4 linked regions of the Homo sapiens genome follow. The protein of the gene in region 3 purifies or fractionates together with the protein of the main gene of each other region. This does not show direct contact. Each region holds a gene or a part of one and is shown on either strand. Other genes may lie near its edges.

What was found.
Region 1: the proteins of GNPDA2 (region 3) and MAP7 purify together in Homo sapiens (affinity purification with mass spectrometry; one large-scale study listed by BioGRID and IntAct). This does not show direct contact.
Region 2: the proteins of GNPDA2 (region 3) and NLN fractionate together in Homo sapiens (co-fractionation; one large-scale study listed by BioGRID). This does not show direct contact.
Region 4: the proteins of GNPDA2 (region 3) and C11orf54 fractionate together in Homo sapiens (co-fractionation; one large-scale study listed by BioGRID). This does not show direct contact.

Annotation. Positions count from the first base shown.
Region 1 is NC_000006.12:136,540,423-136,543,922, forward strand, and holds part of MAP7 (ensconsin), read right to left. Parts: intron 1-3,500. UniProt on the Homo sapiens protein: Microtubule-stabilizing protein that may play an important role during reorganization of microtubules during polarization and differentiation of epithelial cells. Associates with microtubules in a dynamic manner.
Region 2 is NC_000005.10:65,725,205-65,728,704, forward strand, and holds part of NLN (neurolysin, mitochondrial), read left to right. Parts: intron 1-3,500. UniProt on the Homo sapiens protein: Hydrolyzes oligopeptides such as neurotensin, bradykinin and dynorphin A. Acts as a regulator of cannabinoid signaling pathway by mediating degradation of hemopressin, an antagonist peptide of the cannabinoid receptor CNR1.
Region 3 is NC_000004.12:44,713,057-44,716,556, forward strand, and holds part of GNPDA2 (glucosamine-6-phosphate deaminase 2), read right to left. Parts: intron 1,604-3,500; exon of another isoform or gene 1,540-1,603; intron 1-1,539. UniProt on the Homo sapiens protein: Catalyzes the reversible conversion of alpha-D-glucosamine 6-phosphate (GlcN-6P) into beta-D-fructose 6-phosphate (Fru-6P) and ammonium ion, a regulatory reaction step in de novo uridine diphosphate-N-acetyl-alpha-D-glucosamine (UDP-GlcNAc) biosynthesis via hexosamine pathway.
Region 4 is NC_000011.10:93,751,672-93,755,171, reverse strand, and holds part of C11orf54 (ester hydrolase C11orf54), read right to left. Parts: intron 1,491-3,500; coding exon 1,417-1,490; exon of another isoform or gene 1,413-1,416; intron 1,237-1,412; coding exon 1,135-1,236; intron 1-1,134. UniProt on the Homo sapiens protein: Exhibits ester hydrolase activity on the substrate p-nitrophenyl acetate, in vitro. Regulates DNA damage and repair by regulating HIF1A degradation via chaperone-mediated autophagy (CMA).

The DNA of each region.
Region 1 (3,500 bases), on a different chromosome or scaffold from region 3:
AGGCAAAGTCAAAACAAAAGCTGAATGGTATTTTGTCTCACTGCACATATTCATACAGAAATGTGCGTACATGTGGACACTGAGTATATGTGTGCATACTTAGCTATTCAATTGTACTCATAACTGTATTCACATCTATATTTCCTTCAAAAAAGTCCTGGGGCAAAATAAGAGACAACCTGAGTAAACTCACTAGACTTAGGGCAATTGCTATTACGATTTTCCATGTGGTTTCCATAAGCAAGGTGCACACACTTGACACCACACACCACAATAGTCAAATGGAAGGGAATACAATAGGAAATGGTTCTGAATCATTAGTTCTCAGCACTGATTGCACACCAGACCATCTGGGGAATTTTAAAAACACTGCCACCTGACTCCCATCCTGCAAGATTCTCAGATAATTACCTTGGATGCCACCTGGGCATCCTGATATTTAAATGGTCCCCAGGTGATTTTTAATCACTGCCAAGATTGAGAGCCAATGATGTGAATCAATGATACTCCAGCACATGGGCGCAATAATCATTTCAACAACATAACCTTGGGGTCAAGGAGTGACCCATATTTAAATGAACCCACCACGCCTGTGGTGAAGTTGTCACTGAACTAATTTGGAGCATCTACCATGAATAGAAACCAGTCCAGCTGGAATGCAAGAAGTAAGCAACCAGGTCCTGTCTGGTGCGCCTGCCACCCCAAAGGCTTGGGTCAGGAGCTTCTGAGAACCAGAAGCCCAGATTCGAATCTTGAGAAGCAGCCAAAAGTTTTGCTACAGGAACACATCTTACAGCCAATTATTATGCATGTTATTGCCACCAAGTAGGCTTCATGATGAGGGGTGGAGGTGCTAAGGAAGGGCTCCTTTCTAGAACTTCACCTTGACATTTAAACTGATCCTAGAGAACTTTTCTACATTCAACAGTGTTGGGGAAATGAGTTTTATACTCAGAGGTTATGCCATAGTGAAGGATAGTTCTCTTTACTAGAAAGCCAACTCCAAAAAGGAAGCTTACATATCATTTAATTTTAAAAGTCACAGAATTAGAAATTTTAAGATACCCCAAATCTCAATACTCTAAACTTAAAGATATATCATTTACTAACAGTGCCTATGAAGTGCAGCTCACATATGCCAAGTGCACTGCTCCCAGCCTCCTCCCTGCATTGTTTTATACCCCGTGCTCCTCTGTGCCATCTGGTCAGGTGTGTCAATCCTCCTTGGCACTTTCTCATGATTCTTTTTTTCACAACTATTTCTATAGGAGCATCAAGGATGAAGAACAGTTGAATGCAGTTTTTCTCAGTGTCAAATACTATATATTACTCTTCAAATCAAAATTCAAAGTGGAGCCGGGAGTGGTGGCTCCCACCTGTAATTCCAGCACTTTAGGAGGCTGAGTTGGGCAGATCGCTTGAGCTCAGGAGTTCAAGACAAGCCTGGCCAACACGGCAAAACCCCCTCTCTACTAAAAATCCAAAAATTAGCTGGGCATGGTGGTGGGCACCTGTAGTCCCGGCTACTCGGGAGGCTGAGGCACAAGAATCATTTGAACCTGGGAGGCAGAGGTTACCGTGAGCCAAGTTCGTGCCACTGCACTCCAGCCTGGGCAACACAGCGAGACTCTGTCTCAAAAAATATATTTAAAAAAAATTTCAAAGTGGTACCTAATAAAAAAATCTTACAGATCTTTTTCAACAGGCTATTTCTCAAATTAAAAAGATACTAAAGAGAATAATAATTACTGAAGAGAAAATCCAAATGCCATTTAAATGTGTCAACAACCGTAACTCAGAGTTTTACAAGAGCTAAGATAGTAAAGAGGTAGACAACATCACCGCTAGAGAACGAGACAAACCCTAAAACTGAATTTTATAAAAAAGTATAAGCCTAAATACCATTCACATTTAGCTTACAGAACCTTAGACCATGAGCAACTGATGAAACGTCCAATGACAGACTATCAAGGCTTTACAAAGCACTGTATCTGAGAACTGGTAAGTATTCAGTTTGACAATATAAGATGTTCCAATAAGGAATTAATCAGGATAATAAACAAAGTATATGAACAATATGTCTAGCTTTCTAACAACAAAACAAGTTATTTCCAAGTTCTAGAAAGCCATATCTCAAGGGATTAGAACAGAGACCATTAAGGAGGAAGAGAGAACTTGAATTGGCAGGGAATGTGCTATATAATGGCACTTCCGTCTATAATCAACTTCAGAATGCATACTCCACAGGAAATAAGAGATACTATGGCTCTTCAAGCAAGCAATGGTGTGTTAAAATTAAAAAAAAAAAGAAATACTGTGGGGAAAAAAGAATGAAGGAGAATAAAGATATTAGAGTCAAATATAAATTCCGTATTATACCTAGGCTCTGGGATCAACACCACCTCCAGGCTTTCCTAATTCATGTGAGCATGGGTTAGCATTAAAAAGGCACTATTTTACTTTGAGGTGATTACATTGCTTTACTCAAAGAACTTGGTGGAATGGCTAAAGTTTTAAAAACAAACAAAACTAACGATACTAAGTATTAGTGAGGATGCAGGGCAACCAGAACTCACATACACTGTTTGTAAGAATGTAAAACCGTAGAGTTGCTCTGGAAAAGCTTGGCCATTTCTTATAAAGTTAAACATACAGTTACATGAATCAGCAATCCCACTCCTAGGTATTTACCCAGAATAGATGAAAACTATGCTCACACAAAAACCTGTAGGTAAGTGTTTACAGCAGCATTATTCATAATTGCCAAAACCCGGGAACAACTCAAATGTTCTTTGATAAACCATCTGTGATACTTCCATACAATGGCAAACTACTTCATCAAGAAAAAGGATGTACCACATCCTAACATGCACAACAGTGTGCCTGAATCTCAAAAACATGATGCCAGGTGAAAAATTCAGACTCAAAAGGTTACACAATGTGGGGCTGGGTGCAGCGGCTCACGCCTGTAATCCCAGCACTTTGGGATACTGAGGCGGGTGGATCACCTTTGGTCAGGAGTTCATGATCAGCCTGATGGGGTTTAGTAGAAACCCCATCTCTACTAAAAATACAAAATTAGCCGGGCATGGTGGCACATGCCTGTAATCACAGCTATCCGGGAGGCTGAGGCAGGAGAATCGCTTGAACCCAGGAGGCGGAGGAGGTTCCTGTGAGCTGAGATTGTGCCATTGCACTCCAGCCTGGGCAACAAGAGTAAAACTCCGTCTCACAAAAAAAAAGAAAAAAAGGTTACACAATGTATGATTCCACTTTTATGACATTCTGGAAAAGGCAAAACTAGGAAGATGGTAAACAGATCAGTGGTTGCCAGGGGTTAGGTGTAGGAAGAGAGTCTCACTACAAAGGTGCAGCATTAGGGAATTTAGGTTGGAGGCAGAGGACTCTTTGGGATAATGTTAACGGTGGTGCTTACATTACCTATACAGTCAACAAAACTAAAAAAAGAAAATAAAAGAAAATCCGTAATTTTTTTTGCA
Region 2 (3,500 bases), on a different chromosome or scaffold from region 3:
TCATTTTGGTTTAAGATGAAGAAAATCCCACCTCACAGTCATATGAAGTTGGAAAGAAGAATATTTTAATAGCTTTTTAAAGATAATCATGGATGTTCTTTGATATCACATCAAAGTTTGACAAATCGTAGCTTTTTAAAGGTTAGTTACAAAGTGGAATTTGAAACTATATCAATGTACTTGTTTTACACTGTTACATTAATATCCAATGGTGTACCTTACACTTTGAATGGATGTTGAATCCATGCCTGTTTTTTAAAACATTAAGCATAAGTCCTTCGGAAATTTTAGTGGTTCACTGTGTTATACAGTTCTTCCTAATGTTGACATATTTCATTATACAGTATCAAACAATCACTTTCCTTAATGTCTTCCTATTTAGTCGGAAAAGTCTTCAAGTATTGGGAAGCTGTCAAGCTCACAGTGGCAGATAGGATTTTCCAAAATTCTAGTTTTCACTTGAAAGCTAGAATTTTATCATTGGTAACACAAACTGTCAGTTGTTTTACTTGAAGTGACAATCTCACTTTGTTACATTTTTGACAGAATTTCTGCCACATACTTAAGTCTGAATAACCCTGGTTTGTCTGTCAGTAGTTTTTTTCTGGTAAAAATGGTGTTCCATGGGCTGGGCACGGTGGCTCACGCCTGTAATCCCAGCACTTTGGGAGGCCATGGCAGGTGGATCACGAAGTCAGGAGATCGAGACCATCCTGGCTAACACGGTGAAACCCTGTCTCTACTGAAAATACAAAAAATTAGCCGGGCGTGGTGGCGGGCGCCTGTAGTCCCAACTACTCGGGAGGCTGAGGCAGGAGAATGGCGTGAACCCGGAAGGTGGAGTTTGCAGTGCGCCGAGATTGTGCCACTGCACTCCAGCCTGGGCGACAGAGCGAGACTCCGTCTCAAAAAAAAAAAAAAAAAAATGGTTTTCCATGAAAAAAATCTATTTCAGCTCACAGTTCAACCAATTGCAAAAGTGCTTTTGATTTGGGCAACCAAATCCTCAGGACAACCCTTATACTCAGGTACACAGCAGAAATGCTTTGTGTGTACTTGGTCACATATAACTCAAAGGTAGAGATTTAATAAAAATTCATACTTTTTACCATTTCATTAAGGATATTCTAAAATGAAATTGACATTATTTTTAGCCTGAGTGCATGGCAATGAAAAATATAGCTACTAGTATAGTTTGGTGTCATTGCCTCAATTTGTGCTGAAGTACCAACAGTATTATCCACCATTCCTTTTCGCCATCAGTGCAAATGTTCATAAAGTAAAAAGGATAAATAATGTCTTAGTATTGTTATGAAAGATTTTTAACCTCACAGATTCCTTGAAAGTGTCTCAGGAACCCCTCCCCATACCTCTACCTTTAAGGTTTGTGGACTACATTTTGAGAGCTGCCGATATGTGGTATTAGATTCTTTGTTTATGCATGGAAGAAAATAAATATACTAATAGCCAAAAAATTATTACCTTGTTAGAAGCTACCATAAATATATTAACTAATTTGTTACATAAGGGCATATCTTACAGTTAATCATCATATATGGTAGTCCTTAACCCAGGGCTTCCTTGACTTAATCACAGAATCTGCTCTGTTTCAAAATCAGTATCTTCCAAAAGAGTTCATATTAGACAACATGGAGGACCCCCTGTGTTCTCCTGTTTTTCCTGTTTCCTCTGACACTTGGGAGTTCATTTTAGTGTTATGGAGTAACTAGGCTTTTGCCTAACTGACTTACAGTTTCCATTGGGTTTTCTTGTTGGCAGAGCTGCTATATCCCCTTCCCAAGGCCAGCTTCCAGCTAGGATCATTGATTGGGGTGTTCAGCCAACTTCTTGGGAATAAGTGGACTGAGAATCTGGAGTTTGGATTATAGTTGCTGTTCAATTCACTTTGTGACCTTAAAAAAATCACTCACTCCCTTGGACCTCTTTCAAGTTATGTACCTATGTATGTATGTATTTTAGAGACAAGGTCTCACTCTGTCATCCAGGCTGAAGTGCAGTGGGGCATGATCATGGCTCACTGCGGTCTCAAACTCTGGTTTCAAACAATCCTCCCTGCCTCAGCCTTCTGAGTAGCTGGGACTACAGGCGCTCACCACCATGCCCAGCTAATTTGAAAAAATTGTTTGTAGAGATAGGATCTTGCTATGTTGCCGAGGCTAGTCTAGAATTCCTGGCCACAAATGATCCTCCCATCTCAACCTCTGAAAGTGCTGGGATTACAGGAGTGTACTATCATGCCTGGCCCAGGTTCCTTATATTGTAAAATGAAAAGGACTAGACTAAATAATAGCTAAGGCCTTAAAAAAAAAACAAAAAGCAAAAAACCTCTATATTGCCATAGCAAACCAGGAGAATTCCTCCTCCTACCTCAGATTGTACAGCATGTGACCCAAGCAAAGCCTAATGTATATTATAGAATAAGAGGGATGAGTGACATGGTCAAAGAAACAAACGAGAAGGTTGACTCAACAATATTTAGCCGAAACAATAGCTGTAATAGCCTAGCTTCCTCTTGCAATTAGAAAAGACAGCTTGGTTTGTTTTTTGGTTTTTGTTTTTTTGAGACAGTCTCGCTCTGTTGCCCAGGCTGGAATACAGTGGCATGATCTCGGCTCACTGCAACCTCTGCCTTCTGGGTTCAAGCAATTATCCTGCCTCAGGCTCCTGAGTGGCTGGGATTACAGGTCCCCACAACCACGCCTGGCTGATTTTTTGTATTTTTAGTAGAGCTGGGGTTTCACTATGTGGGCCTGGCTGGTCTTGAACTCCTGACCTCAAGTGATCTGCCCACCTCAGCTTCCTAAAGTGCTGGGATTATAGGCGTGAGCCACTGCACCTGGCCTAAAAAACACAGCTTGGTTTTTTAAAATGATGACAGCAATGCGTGTTCATTATTGAAAACTTAGCAAGTAATGACAAGCAAAAGAAAATATTAAATATATATATAATCCAGCCACCTGGAACAGCCAATTCTTAACAGCTTTCAAAATTTCCTCTATGAACAGACTTTCTTTTTATAAATATGATATTGTTATTCTTTTATAATTTTTAATATTATACAAACATCCCCTAAAATATAAATAGCTATAATATATTCCTTTTGGGGATGTATGCAATTTGATTAATATACGCCTTTAGAAATGTCAACTATTCCCAACTTCCTGCAATGAGTAATAGTGCTTGGATAAACATTCCTATTGTCCTTTTCCAAATCTTTAGTTATTTTCTTAGTATAAATTCTTACAAATGGAATTTGTACATCAAAGGGCATGCATACCTTTCAGGTCTTTGGTACTTATCATCTTATTCTATTCTAAAAACTTTCTCCCAAATTATAACCTTACCAGGTGAGTAAGTAAATGCTGGTTTCCTATACTGTTACCAACATTGAGCATTTTAATTTTTTTTATCCTTACCAGTTTGATAAGTGGAAATTTCTCTTATTATAATTTGCATTTTCATACATTTTTGGAAGGTTT
Region 3 (3,500 bases):
GGACGCACTTATTAAATAATGGCTGGATAAATGAATGTATGGTTGCTATTCTTTGGTCAGCTCGGTATAGTTTATTCCACCTCCCACCTTGTTCTCTTCTGCCTTGCTCCCCTCACCAGAGGGGCTGGAACAATTTTAATTTCCTATATCCCTCTTAGGTAAAGTGACTGTGGTCTAGAGATAAGCACTTGTCTCAGGCTGAGCCAATCAAAATATCTGTCTGGATCTGAATCTTGACCAGGGATACAGTTAACGAAGACAGCATGGTGAACTGAAGCACTGGATGACAGCACTGCAGGGAGAAGATTGATGAGTTTCTACTTCTGAGATCTGAGGTTCTCTGTTTTTCCAAAGACTTGGTTGTTTTAACTTTTCCTTCAGTTTGTGAGTTACCCTAGAATCATTCCAGTTAATTTACTTTTGATCCCATTAGTTATTTCCTTTTTCTACCAAAGCAAAGAATCCAAGCATGCAACCAAATCAGAAGGTTAACATTTTCTCCACTGTCTTCTTTTATTTTTACTTTTTAAAAACACTATTAGGCCGGGTGCAGTGGCTCACACCTGTAATCCTAGCACTTTGGGAGGCCAAGGCAGGTGGATCACCAGAGGTCAGGAGTTCGAGACCAGCCTGGCCAATGTGGCAAAACCCCATCTCCACTAAAGATACAAAAATTAGCCGGGCATGGCGGCAAGTGCCTGTAGTCACAGCTACTCAGGAGGCTGAGGCAGGAGGATCGCTTGAACCTGGGAGGTGGAGGTTGCAGTAAGCCAAGATCAAGCCACTGTACTCCAGCCTGGGCAACAGAGCGAGACTCTGTCTCAACAACAACAAAAAACCCAAGACACTACTGCGTTAAGATATTTTAAAAGTTTATATATTTAGATTTTATTGTAAAACTAGATTTTTAAAATTATTTATTTATTCATTTTGAGACGGAGTTTCACTCTTGTTGCCCAGGCTGGAGTGCAATGGCACGATATCAGCTCACCACAACCTCGGCCTCCCAGGTTCAAGTGATTCTCCTGCCTCAGCCTCCCGAGTAGCTGGGATTACAGGCATGCACCACCACGCCCAGCTAATTTTGTATTTTTTTTTAGTAGAGACGGGGTTTCTCCATGTTGGTCAGGCTGGTGTCGAACTCCCAACCTCAGGTGATCTGCGCACCTCAGCCTCCCAAAGTGCTGGGATTATAGGTGTGAGCCACCGGATCCCAGCCCTAGATTTTATTTTTAAAAATCCATGTTTGTATATCTTATTGCTGGGGTTAAGTCAGGAATTGCATGATACACCTTTTACCCTTTCTCTGAACACGTTTGCCATCAGAGGAGGAATTAGAACATTTGAGTATGTATTTCCTCCTTTTTCTTTCCCTCTTCCCTCAGAGGAAAGGGACCTCTGCTCTAATTCCCTGGAATGAGCAATAGCAGATTAACATTTTTGAGCTCTTCTCATTCTACTGTTTCCAATTCAAAGGGCAGGAGTGAAAAACCCCATTCTGGCTTCAAGCCCAAACTGCAATCTCTATTTCAACTTTACCTTTAATAAAGCTGATATTTTGATCCCATTTGGCACAGTTCTTAGAGTTTTTATTAACCAAACCCTGGAACAAAAGAAGGGTAGTTGTAAGACCCAGATGCCAATCCTCATCTAAAAATCCAATGATGATAAACCTAGATCAACAAATGAGATTCTTTCATGAATACATATCCAATAATAGGGCATCCCAAATAAGGAAAAGTTCAAAGAAAATGCAATAATCCTTCTCTCTCTCTGCACAATTATGTCCTTTAGATGGTACATATAAAATGTCAGGCATTGGATCATCCATGACTACAGTGAAGATGTTAATGTAAGAGGCACAGGAACTCTCTTAAAATATATTTGGGAGCGGGGAGGAGCGGGGAAACAACTACAGGAAGCTTAAGACAAACTGGTTAAAAAACCAAGTCAAATTCTTTTTAGTGGTGTCAGTGATAAACATATATAATTATAACTTATGCAACATCTATTTCAAAAGGAGAACTGAGGTGGTTTATACTGAAGAAACATAACCCCCTCCCAAAAAAAATTAGCTGAAAAGAAGTACGAAATGATTTAAAGTTATAAGGAAAGAGGAAAGTTCTACCAGACATCTTGGATAAGAATTACAGGCTTAAACATTATTTTATGCTATGAATGCTTTCTGGAAGGCAGGCAAAGGAATAAAATCAAGTGTTCTTATCAGTGTTATTCCCCATAGTAAAATCTATTTCCTACCTTTGGGTCTACAAGAGATTTGTCACATGCATACTTATGTAAGGTCAATAAATTAACAAGGGGGAAAGAAAGTCTACAAATGAAGATATTTTCAAGCAGCCACTTTTAATAATGAACCTCAAACAACTAAGAGCCTTTTTTTGCATTATAGTAAATGAGTGAAAACATTTTTTGATATAAGCAGTTGAAGTATGTGGTACTCCAGTAATTCTACCAGATTTTGGTGTGGAGCTTAGAAAATCTAAAGATTAGATGGTCTATGCACCCCTCAGACACTCTCAAATATCTACTGTCTAGCCTGAATATTGGAAGGTACAAATGGTTAATTATCTCAAAATTGAGTCATACGTACAAAGCAGGAGTATGCAAATGTTCTCTAGGATTACTGAAGTAATATTAGTAAATTTTATTTAAAACAGATAACCTTCTAATTTGAAAAGCAATAGTCTAACTTGGTTTCTTGCTCCAATAAACAACCATTCTATCAAGAAAGTAAATGTTATTGACTCTGCTAGGTAGAAGTAAAAACTATCTTAAAGAGAAGATTTCAGTCTTCCTGGATGTCCCTAGAGGGAATTCGGTAAAAATCCCAAGGAATTCAGTAATTCTAAGGGACAATTATTTCCGCATTTACAGTTGAGAGAGAAAGAGAAGACTGAAGTAGCACTTATGGAGTACCAACTATATACCAAGCACTGTGTAAGGCATTTTATACATGTTACAACATGATTAATTCTCACAAATTTTGGAATGTTTAATATTAATCCTCTTTTACAAATGATGTACCTATACTGAACTTCAATAAACTTTCCCAGGTCATACAGATACTAAGTGGCTAAAACAGGATACAATTTTACGTCTGACTTTAAAACCAAATTTCCCCCAATGATAATCAACTATCTCAACCATACTTGGCCACTTCAAGTATAAATTAACCTCAGGACAGCTCTATTGAAGATCAAATTCATGTAATTTTGATCAGTGTTCTATTAAGTTAATAATAAGTTATATACAGATAATTTACAGCATTAGTATTTTTAGTTGAATATTAAAGAATCTGGCAAAAAATTTTGATTTTAGTTTAGTTGATGTTGAACTATTCTTATAGCAATTAGCTAGCTGTCTGCGATAGTTTACACTGATAATAGAAAACCACGTTGTCATTACAAAGGAAAAAACTTATTTTTAACTGTAGATTATATATACACACACATATATAAATTACAAGTGGAATTTGGTAA
Region 4 (3,500 bases), on a different chromosome or scaffold from region 3:
TCTGCAAAGAGAATATCTTGAATAATGTTACAAAACATTTAATCCTTTTAAGACATTTTAGTTCAAGTCCTAATAAGAGAACATAAAATACATAATATTTAATTTTAGACATAAAAAACTTGGAAAACATTTATAGGCCGGGCGCTGTGGCTCATGCCTGTAATCCCAGCACTTTGGGAGGCCAAGGGGGGCGGATCACGAGGTCAAGAGAAGAGATCAAGACCATCCTGGCCAACATGGTGAAAACCTGTCTCTACTAAAAATACAAAAATTAGCTGGGCGTGGTGGCACACACCTGTAGTCCCAGCTACTCAAGAGGCTGAGGCAAGAGAATTGCTTGAACCTGGGAGGTGGAGGTTGCAGTGAGCCAAGATCGCGCCACTGCACTCCAGCATGGCGACAGAGCGAGACTCCATCTCAAAAAAAAAAAAAAAAAAAAAAAAGATATTTATTGGATTTCTTACAGTGTATCTATAACTTGCGTTAAATATCTTATTTTAAATTTTTAACTTTTTTTCCTAACTTGAACACTAGGCAAATTGTACTAATGTTTCTGCAAAGAACTTGTATGACTACTATTCATATCTGAAGAGGTTATGAGAGAATGAGCAGACTGAAGTCTTGTATTCATGAGATTCAAAGAAACAGTAATATTTTCATATGGTAATAATATATACTAGTAATAACTATTAACTTTCATAAATAACCATCATACTATTGTGATAGTTTCCTACTATTTGGTGTGGAAGAAGGAGTTGACTAGATCACTAATATTCCATTCATCTTCTAATCCAAAGCTGCCTGCATACCCAAAGCAAAGATTTATAGATAAGCTCGGAATCCTGTAAGAATATAAATATTTTATAATCCAGAACCTTCAACAGAATACCATAGAACCCTGCATTTATCTAAGGCTGAAGCTATGACCTAAGAAAATCTAAAACTACAAGTTAGTACTCCATTACAGTTAGTCCAGTTGGAGTGTGTGCTATAGCAGAAATCTACATCAAGTAGTATCAAACCTGCAGAGAGATTTACAATTCACTCAGAAAGTAGGATTTTTGGCACTAAAAGCAAAAAGACAAACCAAATGTCAAACCAATAAAGTAAAATAATTTTCTTATATATGCTGACCTCAGAATTGAACCCGAGAGTCTGAAATGGACCTGCTCCTGCTCCAAGAATAAAGGCTCCAGGCAGCTTGATTTCTTTTGCAATTTTATTCAGATCATAAACCTATAGAAGAGGAAAAAATATTATTTAAGTCACAACTTGTACAAAGTCCCTGGTTTACCTTTTATTACTGATCCATTAGCACTTCCTTGCCAACTGATCAACAGGTCTTCTAATAATAAACACAGTAATCAACCCAACTTCTACAATCTTCATGTGAATATGCAGAGTAAAAGTACTTACTTTTTTTTGGTTTACAAGAGGCAATAAGTAAGGCACACCTCCAACTTCTGCAATTCTAGTTTTCCCACAGATGCCTAAGAAAAAACCAAAAAACAAAAACACAAGCCACCTTAAAAACAGGCAAACATCTAATTTAATAATAAAATGCCAACAGTATATAACTTCTCCATTATCATAAAGTTTTACAAATAACAGGGATTGGAAGACATAGTGGCTAGAACCCCTGTCCTATTTTAAGTACCTGTGTCTCTAATAATCATCATAACCAAGCATGGCTTATAAAGTTGGTGGCATAAAGGCAATACAAGGCAAGGGCAAGGGTTAGAACTGGGGCCAAAGTTTGGATTGGGTAAGGTTTCTAGAATGTCTTTGACGCCTTATTTCTTTAAAAAAAATCTATTTTGGGGTGGTTTTCCTTTTTTTGGCTAAAATTGTTTCTTGTTTTTTAATTTAAAATATTTTGCTCTGGTACAATGTAAATTCTCAGATGGTGGCTCACGCCTGCAATCCCAGCACTTTGGGAGGCTGAGGCGGGTGGATCACCTGAAGTCAGGAGTTCGAGACCAGCCTGGCCAACATGGTGAATCTCTACTAAAAATAGAAAAATTAGCTGGGCATGGTGGCGGGAGCCTATAATCCCAGCTACCAAGGAGGCTGGGGCAGGAGGATTGCTTGAACCCGGCGGGGGCAGAGGTTGCAGTGAGCCAAGATTGTGCTACTGTATTCCAGCCTGGGCAACAGAGCAAGACTCTGTCTCAAAAAACAAAACATCACGAGGTCAGGAGATCGCGACCATCCTGGCTAACACGGTGAAACCCCATCTTTACCAAAAATACAAAAAATTAGCCGGGCGTACTACTCAGGAGGCTGGGTGTACTACTCAGGAGGCTGAGGCAGGAGAATGGTGTGAACCTGGGAGGCAGAGCTGGCAGTGAGCCGAGATCGCGCCACTGCACTCCAGCCTGGGTGACAGAGCGAGACTCCGTCTCAAAAAAAAAAAAAAAAAAAACCCAGAGAGATCTAGGTGAGATGTACAAATTTCAAAGTTATATTCAGGTAGTAATTAAAACCATAAGAGTGGATTTAAAAAATACCCAGATAGATTACTAGAAATAAGAAGAGGCTAAGGAAAGAATTCTGGAAAAGATCAATATTTAAGAGACTATTAGAAAGAAAAAGGAACCAGGAAAATATGGAAGAAAAGAGGAAGGAAAGGCACAAAGGAAGAACAGGTGAAACAAGGATAGAGAAGATAGAACCTAGGGGAGAATGTCAGGCAGCAATGGCCAAGCAGTATGAAATACGTGGAGAGGTTAAATAGTACTAGTAAACATTTTAAGGTCACTGGTGATCTTAGCAAGACCAGTTCATGTAGAAAATGTCTAACACACCACTGCATCCAGCTAATTTTTGTACTTTTAGTAGAGATTGGGTTTCACCATGTTGGCCAGTTTGGTCTTAAACTCCTATGTTTATGAAAGATCATACATACACATATTAGATGCATATCTGGCTTCTAGTATTGCAATTTAAAGACTCACAAATTACTGACCAGAAAACACTTCTTCCAAGCATAACTCTGCATGACAAAATTAAGACTAACCATTTTGGCTGGGCATGATGGCTCACACCTGTAATCCCAGCACTTTGGGAGGCCGAGGCGGGCACATCACTTGAGACTGGGAGTTCGAGATCAGCCTGGCCAACATGATGAAACCCCGTCTCTACTAAAAATACAAAAATTAGCCAGGTGTCGTGGTGCACACCTGTAATCCTAGCTACTTGGGAGGGTGAGGTATGAGAATCGCCTGAACCCGGGAGGCAGAGATTGCAGTGAGCCAAGATTGTGCCACTGTACTCCACACTCCAGTCTGGGCGACAGAGCGAGATTCCATCTCACACACACACACACAAAAAAAAAAAAAAAAAAAAAAAGATTAACCATTTTTCCTTCTTTCTTGTACTCTTCTGTCTCCTGACCTTTATTTAATTTTAGTTAATTACTTAATTAGCAGGGGAAATACATTACACTCATATTTTTAAAAAAATCAAGGCTGGGCGTGGTGGCTCACGCCTGTAATCTC